Linked DNA regions of Homo sapiens. The protein of the gene in region 2 interacts with the protein of the main gene of each other region in a biochemical or structural test. Each region holds a gene or a part of one and is shown on either strand. Other genes may lie near its edges.

What was found.
Region 1: of the proteins of PRKAB1 (region 2) and HDAC5, one has a biochemical effect on the other in vitro, tested with the Homo sapiens proteins (one study listed by BioGRID).
Region 3: of the proteins of PRKAB1 (region 2) and MAP3K7, one has a biochemical effect on the other in vitro, tested with the Homo sapiens proteins (one study listed by BioGRID).

What each region holds. Positions count from the first base shown.
Region 1 is NC_000017.11:44,117,051-44,120,699, forward strand, and holds part of HDAC5 (histone deacetylase 5), read right to left. Parts: intron 3,546-3,649; exon of another isoform or gene 3,388-3,545; intron 3,054-3,387; exon of another isoform or gene 2,937-3,053; intron 655-2,936; 5' UTR 466-654; coding exon 444-465; intron 1-443. UniProt on the Homo sapiens protein: Responsible for the deacetylation of lysine residues on the N-terminal part of the core histones (H2A, H2B, H3 and H4).
Region 2 is NC_000012.12:119,678,015-119,682,150, forward strand, and holds the end of PRKAB1 (5'-AMP-activated protein kinase subunit beta-1), read left to right. Parts: intron 1-1,918; coding exon 1,919-1,987; intron 1,988-2,233; coding exon 2,234-2,311; 3' UTR 2,312-3,605; downstream 3,606-4,136. UniProt on the Homo sapiens protein: Non-catalytic subunit of AMP-activated protein kinase (AMPK), an energy sensor protein kinase that plays a key role in regulating cellular energy metabolism.
Region 3 is NC_000006.12:90,517,573-90,521,221, forward strand, and holds part of MAP3K7 (mitogen-activated protein kinase kinase kinase 7), read right to left. Parts: intron 1,748-3,649; coding exon 1,686-1,747; intron 991-1,685; coding exon 875-990; intron 1-874. UniProt on the Homo sapiens protein: Serine/threonine kinase which acts as an essential component of the MAP kinase signal transduction pathway. Plays an important role in the cascades of cellular responses evoked by changes in the environment.

The DNA.
Region 1 (3,649 bases), on a different chromosome or scaffold from region 2:
AAAGTATGGAACACAAACATTCCACTAAGTAAAGAAGCCACCATCACGAAAAGGAAGCTGAGCATTCTGCTATAGTAAAGAAATTCCTCCAACATCATCCCAGACTGCCCAGAGAGATTAAGGGATACACACTGCCCCCTCAGGCCCACCTGTCTTGGCTAGCAGGGGAAGGCGAAGCTGGAGCTGAACACCCCTAAGTTGAGAGGGCAAGCATGGGGGGCAGAGTAGGACCCATTGCCTTCCCAGGACCAGACCGGACCATCGATCCCTCGATTCCCAGGTCTACCTCATGGGCCCTTTCTTGCAACACTTCTCCACTCCTTACCCCCTCATTCCCTTATAGCTCAGACAGTAAAGGTCAGCTGGCCTGGAAGGGAAACCCACACAGCCCATTGCATCCGAAGCTACCCCAGGGTGCTCTTCTCCAACCTCCCAGCTCTTACCCGACTCGTTGGGAGAGTTCATGCCGGCTCTGGGCCTGCAGGAAGCTGGCGTTGGGGGCTGGGACGGGAGGGGGTGGAGCTGCGGTGATGTCAAGAGAGACAGACGATAACAGACAGACGGACGGGACGGGAGCCCGGGGCCGCCGTGCCTCTAATGCCCATCCGAGGCCATCCTTCGGGGCGAGGCAGTCAGGCACTCAGAACGGCATCCCTGGGGAGAGATGGAGCAGGGTTAGAGGCCCCTAACTCAGGAATCTGAGAGTCGAAGGAGACCTTGGAGCTCATCAGTTTGTACCTGGGGATGAGGGATGAGAGGGAGGGATACCTGCCCACAGCCACAGGAGAAATCTGCAGAACTGGATAGACCCTGGTTTCTTATCTTACTAACTGATGAGGCTCCCAGAGCCCAAGGGATAGGAAATGGCTATGGTGGCCAAACCCAACAGACCCCTTTTCAGGTGAGTGTCTACTGCCAGCTGGGGAGACCCTATAGACTCCCAACAGTGCCTGCCATGGGACTAGGTGTGCACCAAAGGAGAAAGTGCAGGGGGGCTTCTGATCTGTATCCATAGCAGTGGGGAGATGCAGGGCTGATCTAGAGTCCCTGGCAGAAGTGAAGGGAGAAACTGGTATCCCAGCCTCCATAGCCTAAGCTGGGACTTCTAGGGGTCTTCTCCCGACTTTCTGATCCTTGTGCCACCCAGCTCTGGAAATATGGATGTGCTTCTGTTTTGGTCTCCCACAGTTCAACAACAGACCAGGACAAGAGCTTCTCTTTCCAGGAATTGAGAAAGTCAGAGACCTCTCCATCCCAAATCTAGTACCCTTGGCCTGGCAGGTGCAGGGCCCAAGCCCAGCACTTTGTGTATATTGTACAGGTTGTGCTCTGTGTAAGGAGGTCTGGCCCAGGGAGATACGAAATCCAGCCTGTGCCCTGCCTGCCAAGCCATGGCCTGACATGCTGAGTCCACCCAAAACAAGGGACGATTTTTTCCCAGTTTGTACGAAAGCAACAAAAGGCCCAGCAGTAGCCCTGCTGAGGCCAGTATAGTAAAGGAGGAGGTATTACAGGACCACGGCTTTGCCAACCCATGCCCACTCCTCCAGTTCTCCCCCACAGTTAGTCCTCAAGCCTCAGACACTATGCATACAGACACCTGGCCCATCCCTAAACGGCCCACGATCCACCCCAGACATGATCTCATTCATTTGCTTCCAAATGAAGGCAGGCCCTCCAATACCCAATGAAAGCAAGGTAGCAGGAAGCCATCAGAGGAGGCTGTGAGCTGCTGCGAGTTTAAGCCCTAACTCTGCTCCCCAAGCCTCGAACCAGCAATCAGCTCTGCCCCCCTAGACAGCCCCACCTCCTGGCAGGATTAATTCTCAGTAAGCCTTACATTCTCATCAGATTCCCAAGGGTGGGGTCCATTTGGAGCCCAGAAGCCCAGAAGCCAGCTATGGCAGAAACACAAGAACATGAACACACATGCGCATGCACGCACACATGCACACACGAGACCCTGAGGTCCCAGGCTTGCTGCTGGGACCACAGGGCTTGGACTCTATGGCTGGAGAAAGGTGCACTCAGATTGGGGGGCAGAGTTGAAGGGGCTAAATTGCTCCTGACGGGCACAGGTATGGGATTAAGACAAAAAAGGCTGCGCAGGCAGGGCTGAGGCCAAGCTCAGGAATGTGGCAGGTAGGGCTGCTGGTGCTCTGGCAGGGCCCACGTGGGCAGGCAGTTCAGCCTGTGCCCACACCAAGGCTGGCACCCAGTCCTGCTCACACCCTTTCCCGTGGGCTGGGGAACACAGGTTCAGAAATGCCCACGATTCCCAGCAGCCTGAGTAGCCCAGTCCATCTCCACAGTGAGAGGCACCTCCACAGCAAGGTGCTCAGAAGGGGCACAGCCCCAGTGGCACAGAAACCAGGTTAAGGTTAGCCCCTAGCCCCCATCATCCTAACCCACCTACTCTCTCTGTGGGTCTTAAAGATGCTGATCCTCACCCCTGAGGCAGAAGAGGAAGGGAGCAGCTCCTTGAACTCATGGTGGGCTCGGGACTCATCTACGTCTACTCCTCCCCGTCCTATAAAATTCAGCAGGATCCCTGGGCCCCTGGGCCCTGTCCACCTGTAAAGAGTGTCTGCCAACACCCCCATCAAGTCTCCCAAGTGAACCAGAGCCACAGGCTGAGCCTCCCTGAGAAACAAAGCAGTGTTCATGGTCTGATCGGGACAAGCACAGATTCCTGTCTGGGGTGGGACATGAAGGGGAGAAGGGGAGCCTGATGTTTAAAACCTGAGCTGTTTGTTCCCACATCTGCCAGAGAAATCTGTTGGGTCTCAGTGGGAAGTCAGGGACACCAGGAGCTGTGTCCCAGATGACCTAACACTTGGATGCCAAACCAGGGAGTGGCCCAACTTCCAGGACATCATAAGCAGACAGACCCCTGCCCACCCCACTACCTCACACCAACTCTTTCTTCCAGACAGACCCCTACCCCACTCCGGGATCCAAAACCACCTCCCACATCCAGCCAAGACAGCCGGACAAGGATGAAGGAAACAGGCTACATCTCACCCTACAAGCTCAGGGCTGAGCCTATGGAAGTAGGGTGGAAACCCCAAACTCTGGCAAAGGGTGGGTGGAGGAGGGCAGACAAGTGAGGGGCACATGGTACAAAGCAATGCTCCAAAGGCCATAGGTTCACAATGTTACCCTGTAGAGATCTTGTTCCTCAAACAACTCCCTCAAAATTCCTGGGGAGTCAGGTGTCCCTTGAAGACCCTCTCTGGATCCTGGAGTCCAGTACCACCATGCAACCCCCTCCCAACACACCTGCTCTGGCCCCAGGCCAGGGTACCCCCTAGGTCATAGGTGACAGGGTCAAGCAGTGTGAATCAAGTCTTGGGAGTCTGAGATTGTTTCACTCTACCCCGACAGTTTCATCAAAAATTACAAACCGGCCAGGCGCGGCGGCTCACGCCTGTAATCCCAGGACTTTGCGAGGCCAAGGCAGGCGGATCACCTGAGGTCAGGAGTTCCAGACCAGCCTGATCAACATGGAGAAACCCTTTCTCTACTAAAAAAATACAAAATTGGCCAGGTGTGGTGGCGCATGCCTGTAATCACAGCTACTCGGGAGGCTGAGGCAGGAGAATCACTCGAACCCTGGAGACAGAGGTGCGGTGAGCCAAGATTGTGT
Region 2 (4,136 bases):
CGGCCTCCCAAAGTGCCGGGATTACAGGCGTGAACCACCGTGCCTGGCCAGGTTTTGTTTTTTCTAGAAAAGGGAGGCATCACTAGCCATCTTCTCTGATGGAGACTGCTGCTGGGAATAGACAAGCTGAGAGTGGCCCAGGGGGCTGGGAATATGAGAATGTCAGGACCCCTCTGTCCAAGGTAGCACTAAGCTCTAATGTAAACTGTGGTTACAGTTGTCACTACTAAAGGGTTAACATTTATTTTGCCCCAAACTAATCTTAAGTGCTTTTCGTGTATTCTTATTCAAGCCTCACAACAACCATGTGAAGTAGGTGCAATTATTACCCCCATTTTAGGGATGGGGAAACTGAGGCACAGAGCAGTAGGGAGAACACTTAAAATCTACTGTCTTAGAGATTTTCAAGAATACATTGTTACTAATAGTCACCGTGTTGTACAGTGGATCTCTTGAACGTATTCCTCCTGTCTAACTGAAATGTTGTATTCTTTGACCAGCATCTCCCTACCCCCACCACTCCTAGCCGCTGGCAACCACCACTCTACTCTCTACTTCTGTGAGTTCGACTTTCTTGGATTCCACATAAGTGACATCACATGGGATTTGTCTTTCTGTGCCTGGCTCATTTCACTTAATGTCCTCCAGGTTTATCCATGCTGTCACAGATGACAAGATTCCTTTTGTAAGGCTCAGCAGCACTGCATTGTGTATCAGTACCTCATTTCTTTATCCATTCATCCATTGTGGACACCTACGTTGATTCCACGTCTTGGCTATTATGAATAGAGCTGCAGTGAACGTGGGAGTACAGATATCTCGACATGCTGATTTCATTTCCTTGGAGTATCTACCCTGTAGTGGGATTGCTAGACCATGTGGTAATTTTAGTTATAACTTTTTAGGAACCTTCATGCCATTTTCCATAATGGTTGTACTAATTTACATGCCCATCAGCAGTGCACTAAAAGTAGCTTTTAAGTGTTCTCACCACAAAAACATGGTAAGCATGTTCTGCGTGTGTTGATGAGCTTGATTTAGCCATTCCACAATGTGTCCATATTTCAAAACAACATATTGTACATGGTAAATATACATAATTTTATCTGTCAATCTTTGAAATTGATTAATTTTTTAAAAACCCCTCTTAGGCTCACACAGCAACTGGCTGAGCCAGCAGTCACATCAGGCTTGGCTGGTGCCAGATCCTTGGTAGTTGGTGCTCTCAGCAGCCACCCTGAATGGCCTCCCAGCGGGAGCTTGCTGAGTATTTGTTGACACAATGATTGGCCCAGCCTCTGGGATCCTAAGCCTACAGCAGTTGTTCTACACTTTTTTCCATTTGAATTGCATTTATAACAGTTGGGGGTATACAATGAAAAAATAAATCCCGATTTCTGGCTTCTCTTAAAACATAGGAAGGTGCGGCGGGCAGCTCTGAGTGCCAGCCCGGTGGCAGATTTTCCAGAGTAGTGGTGTCTTGCCCAGGTATCCGTTTCATTCTTCAGGTTCATTGAGTCTTACAGATACAAGTTTTGAATCCATTGCTCAGGAGCGTTTAGTGCAGATGGTCTCTTCCTGTGTTCTCTGAAAGTGCTGTTAATAGCTGCTTTCTTCCTGCCCCACCCTCCATAAGAGGACAGGGCCGTGGCCCACACTTGAAAGAGGCCGGGGTAAATGCCTGGCCAGAGACACACACCGATGCCTCCAGCAGGCATGCAGGGAGCTCCCTTCAGGTCAGAAGGCGTGACCTTCATCTCACCTGTCGTCTTGGACAAGCCCTTGCGCTGCCTGATTTGGGAAGAGAGGTCGGCCTGAGCGCTGCCTCCTGTCCTTTGATATCTGGCACTGGGAAGTAAAGGGGAGAATCTTGGTTTCCAAATCCCAAATGCTCACCGCTGCCTTTGTTCCCTCACAGTGTGATCCAGCTTTGCTTCCTGAGCCCAATCACGTCATGCTGAACCACCTATACGCGCTGTCTATCAAGGTAATGACATGTCTGTCCCCATGAGAGCTGTGTTGCCCAGTGTGTGCTCTGAGGACCCCCAGCAGTGGAATGACCTGGCGGGACTGACTTAAAGGGCAGCTTCCAGGGTCTGGCACAGGCCATCAGGCTCAGGTTCTGAAGCTGGCCCGGGAATTTGTGGTTTTATGAAGCCCTTAATGATTCTCATGTCCTCTGAGGCTTGAGCCCCTTAGTCCAGCCTTTGATCATTTCCACCTTGTTCCTTAGGATGGAGTGATGGTGCTCAGCGCAACCCACCGGTACAAGAAGAAGTACGTCACCACCTTGTTATACAAGCCCATATGAAGAGCTGGGGGCGGATGGTGGCCCAGGAGACAGCACACCACCAGGCTCCACACGTGCATGCTTTCCCCAAGAGGGAATGGACTGTACATTGCTCATTTCACACTCTTCAGAAGACATTTCATACCTGCCCTGGTCCTGCTTGAAGGTTTGTCCAGGCAGAGCAGCTCCTGCAGCGCCTCGGTCTGTGACAGTCCTCCTAGCACCCCCATGGCTTTGAGCCTCGGGGACTCATCAAGTCCAAGAAAAGAGGGAGGGGTGGCAGAGGATCTGCAGCCCTGGCCCCGCGGTGCATGAGGCTGGGTGCAGTTCTAAACCTACATTCTCGATTTTTCTTAAGCCAAAAATGAATGCTAACTCCTTTGCCAGTAAAATTCTGGGAAACAGGGACTGAGGCCACACATCATTTCCAGTCATCTGTGTGTTTTTAAGGCCAGCCACTTGTCCCTGTTGAGGCCTGGCTATGGAACTAAATACAGTGTTGGTCTTGCCTGTCCTTCAAAATCAACAACAGATTGTCTCTCGGCTCCAGGGAGGTGTCATTTCTATAGAAATTAGAAGCTTTCTGATTTCTAGATGAGGTTTTACAATTGTTTCTTACAGTCATGTGCACTAAGTACTCTTTTTGTAAGCAGAGGTGGCTGGCTCTGCAGCCTTAAGGCCATTTTTTAAGTCACCACGTCTAGAAGTCACATGAACTCTGCTCAGCAATAATCTGTTCTCAGAACAGACTTTTCAACCTGCTGCCGGATTTCTCCATTCAGCTGGATGATCCTCAGGACTGACCAGTTAGCTGGCAGGTTGTCCAGCTTTTTATTCCAGTCATAATAGGTGACAGTGTTAACCGTGAAAACTTGAGAGGCACTCTGCCCTCTTCCCTATAAAATCACACAGCGTGATTTTACAAGGTCCCGTGGCACCTTGCTCAGGACCTCTGCCCCTAGTTAGCAAGACTGCAGCAGTTGCTGTTGCTTATTCTGAAAGGAATGTAGAACTTGACAGCAGCCTTCTGAGTCTGGGTCAGGAAGATGTCCTTTGGACCAAAGCAGACTTCTTTATACGCAGCTCAGTTTCCCGGGAGTCGCCACAGATGTACCCACTAGCCCAGGTTGCTGTGAGTCAGCGGAAGCTCCCGTTATGCCCTTTGCTCCTGGTGGGAGAGGGAGGAGTGAGCTCCCTGGGTTCCAGTATTTACTTGGTATACCTGAGTTTGGGGGTACCCTTTTTTGTGACTTTTCAAAACAGTGAATTACTGTCACCTTGATGGACAAGTTTCAATAAAACTTTGTAAAAATAATTGGACATGTGCCTGGAGGAGCTCTGATTTTATTCAGTCCCTTGGAGAAGAGACTGGAACTCTTCGAGAGTTGCGTTTCAGTACCGTTCTTGTGGCTCTGAGCGGACAGGGCTACTCCAGCTGCCCAGGCCTGAGAACCAGTCCTGTGACTCACACCCATTCACACAGTTTGGAACCTTAAGGGACCCCTAAAACTGAGCCCCTCTGAACAGCTCAAGTCACAAGGGGAAGCTGAAGAGGGGTAACAGCAGAGGCTCCTGGCTTCGGCCAGTTGTTGGTGTCCCCAGGCCAGAGGGTTTGTTTCCTTTTGCTCCTAAACAAGCCCGGTGGGACAGCCTGGGATCGTGACCCTGGCGTGTGAGAGAGCAGGACGTTGTGGAGTCAGAGCTGTTTTCATCCACTAAAAGAGGCCGTGTCCCTCCTCCAAAAAGGTGGAAGGTTATGGGTGTTCCTTTAAGCCTTCTCAGGTATCAGGAAACATTTTAAATTTAGCAGAAAAGCATGCTAATGAGCTCTACCCACTGGTGCAGA
Region 3 (3,649 bases), on a different chromosome or scaffold from region 2:
TCAACATAAAAGTGCCAGCAGTTTGATAATTACTTCTACGATTTCCAAACTGTAGTATTTAATTTCCTATTTAGGCTTACCTTTCAAATACCAGGTTGGTTCCATTTAAATCACTGTATCAATAAATTATGATAAAACAATTTTTTCTCTCTTTTTTTTGAAGTACATACAGAAAGCTTTTCGCAAATTCAGAAAAAAACAACTTTCATTTATTTAGATTAAAATTAATGAAGGGAATCCTATTATCATACATATATAAAGTTGCCAAAATTTTTTCCTTATCACTTCATTTTAGTTACCACCAACAATTCAGTTACCTAAGTATAAAATTTCATGGAGGTCATGCTTAAGAAAACTGAAGATACATACATATTTAAGAACTGTGAATGCAGTAGTAAGGAAATTAGGCTGTGTTTCTTTAAAAAGGGAGGAAGGCAGTTTCTATAACTCCTCAGAAAAACACTCAGTTATGAAATACAGTCTTTTAATAAGTAATCCAATTCTAAACATACACCTGGAAAAAATGTATCTACAAAAATGTTTCTAAGATAAGGCACAACTGAATGTTAATAAATCAAATTATTTTATCTATTTACAAGAAAACAATAAATCTTTATAATAATAAGTCTAAACAGCTCTGAGAACATAAAACAACAAGTATAAAGCACCAGTTTATTTTCCATAGCACTAATATGATAGTCAAAAGGATTGAGTTTTGCATAAAAAATTTTTAGTAAAAGGGTGCTTAAAGCTTAAACAAGTTGAAAGTATACTTAATGACTAATTCTAAAAACTACGTTTTCATTGCACCTTATCATATTTTAAACTCAAAATACTAATGTATTTTTATTTTTATTCATAAAAAATAACTTACTTTCTCTGTAATAACAATGCAATTTCTGTTTGAACTTTCATATATTCTTGTGCCATTTTACAATGCTGTTCAAACACTGCCATAGATTCTTTGGAGTTTGGGCACGGTGCTAGAGGCTGAAAATAATCAGGAATGTTAAAACATAATTAAATCAAATTTCAATATCTAGCTAAGATGAGAGTCAAGACAGAGACTGTGATATATTTTTATAGCACTAAAGCAATGATCTTTTAAAAATAAGTGTTAAACCATGCCCTAGAAAATCTCAGTGTCCTTTTGTCAGAATTAACTCAGCATTTAAATCTATTCTTGCTGTTTTAACAGTCTGTTACAGAGAATCATGATTGTTGGAGTTGTAGTCTCTGGTATGACATTTCAGGCTGCAAACAGGCTCAAACTAAATGATGTTTATAGCCCTCATACTCATGAGGGGGCACTGAAGTATATTATTTACATTTTCAGTCACTATGAACATGAGAATGTATCACAAATGTATTAAATAGAAATAAGCTTATGAGTTTTGTTTTAATGCACTAAAATTAAAGAGTGAAAATGTAATGCTTAGCAGTACTAAAGAAAGATACTGGAGGATTTTAAGATGACTGAAAAGATAAGAATATGATTCTGCCAATTTAAAGTTTGATTAACTTAACCAAAAGAATTATTTTGATTTGATTCTAAAAAGTTTAAGGAGGCCAACTAAAAGGATAAATTAAGGAGTGACTATACAATGACAGGTAGCAACACAATTGTCAACTTAAACTCTCTAAGAAGAAAAAAGTCAACTTTCAATAAGAAAGTACTCCTTTACCTGTAGTTGGTGATCCAGTGTAAGATAAGCCATTGGGATGGAGTTATCTGATCCATTGGTATCTGGAATTCAAGCATGTATTTTATTGATTTTCTGTCACAAATAATTATAAACGAACAGCAAGAAAGCATGAATGAAATGCTTTTTTTCCCTAAAGTAAATAATATGTAAATTAAAAGTTACAGCTATTGGTAATTGAAGAGTCTATTTCTGAATTCTAAAGGTTAAAAAAAGGATATTCAATTATCAGATATTAGAATGCAATTATATTCTCATACCTATAATTTAAGTTGGCTATAAACTGAATAGAACACAATATATTAGAGCTTCTAAGCTCTTAATTAAAAACAAAAACAGTGATGAGACCTTTATATTTTAAATTCAGTCTTAATTGACCCTATCTAATCAAACTCCCCATCTCTTTTCTTTATCATGCTAAGTTTATTTTATAGAAGGCTATATCAACTCCGCTAATATCAATGTTCCTTAACAGGGAAAGGGAGAAAGCAGAGACACATTCTCTTCCAGTGGATCATTTTCAATTTATATAGATTATAATGTGACCTCCACCACTCATCCTGCCCTTCCCAGTAAGAATCACTGCAGAAAACGAGATGTTGGTGATGAGAGTATATTACAAATACGAACAGTAAGGAACCAAAATGAGGTTGAAACCTGTGGCTCAATGTCATGCCGAAAACAGTTAAGTTGATTAATTCAAACAATCAGTCAATTTTATAAAATTATTTGAATAGAATGCTTTTGTTTATATTTCAAAAGAGGTAAAACTGCCATACAACTTGACTGAGATGCGTGGGACAGTCTCTTCTCAACATTTATGGTTATGTAGAACAGTTCCAGAAGTAAACAGAGTAACTCTGAAGCAATACAGACTTTTCTACTTCAGAAGTAGTTGCTTTCCCACTGTTAGTAGACAAAAAAAGAGCTAAATGAGTGAGCTCTTCAGCCTTTTTCTGACGAATAACTCCTTGAAGGAGTGGTGTGGATAAAGGCAAGTCAGGAAGACAGCAGACGCACTGTATGCAATCCAAAAAAACTCAAGAAGGGTTGCTGGCTCAGTAATCTTCTAATTTATTGTCAACTGATAATCCAGGTGTTTTTTTTTCTTTTTGCTTTTGTTTTTGTTTTTTTAAAGCCACTGAGAACGTGCTCTCAAGAAACTCCAAAAGCTAATTAGCGAAATCAGACCAAATGAGCCAGTGCATGTGAGGAACACCATGCAAATCCTGGCGTATATTAAGCACTCAATACATGACGGTAGTTATCATTATTATTCATACTAAATGGAGAATTAGAAAGAACAATTTAAAATAGTATAGTATGAATTCCATATTGAAAAAGTAATGTTTATTAAATATTGCAGGGCAATACAGAAAAACAGTAGAGACTTAAGGCACTTACCCTTACCCTTAAGGCTCATATACAGTACTAACATAAATGTGTGTTTTTCTGAAGTGGCTAAACAAGAAATATACTTAATTTGTTATTTCTCTGACCAACTCTTCTCCCACCCCAACAGTGGTTTCAAACTACGCTCCCACATAAACACTGCTTTCCACAAAACTAAAACTGATTAAAAATGACTGATTTCCTCCTGATTTACTAGAAAAATTTAAGTGTCTTGAAAAAGTTTCAATTTAAGATTTCCATTCCTATTATTCTTTCTTAAATCACTGATACATTATATATCTCATTATATCAGCACCCTGTATCTGATATGTATTTTAGAATTAAGCTTAATACATCAGTGTTGCGTGGTATTCTGGGAGCAGAAAAAAAGTCCAAGGATTGTGTTATTCAAATAATTAAAGCCCTTGTATGGTGGGGAACTTAAGGTCCTTCATTGAATTTCATCTTCTCTCTAAAAAAAGAAGTGGGATTTCACTTTCTCACTTTACACTAAATTGATATTGAACTTCCAATCTCTACTAGCAATAATTGGT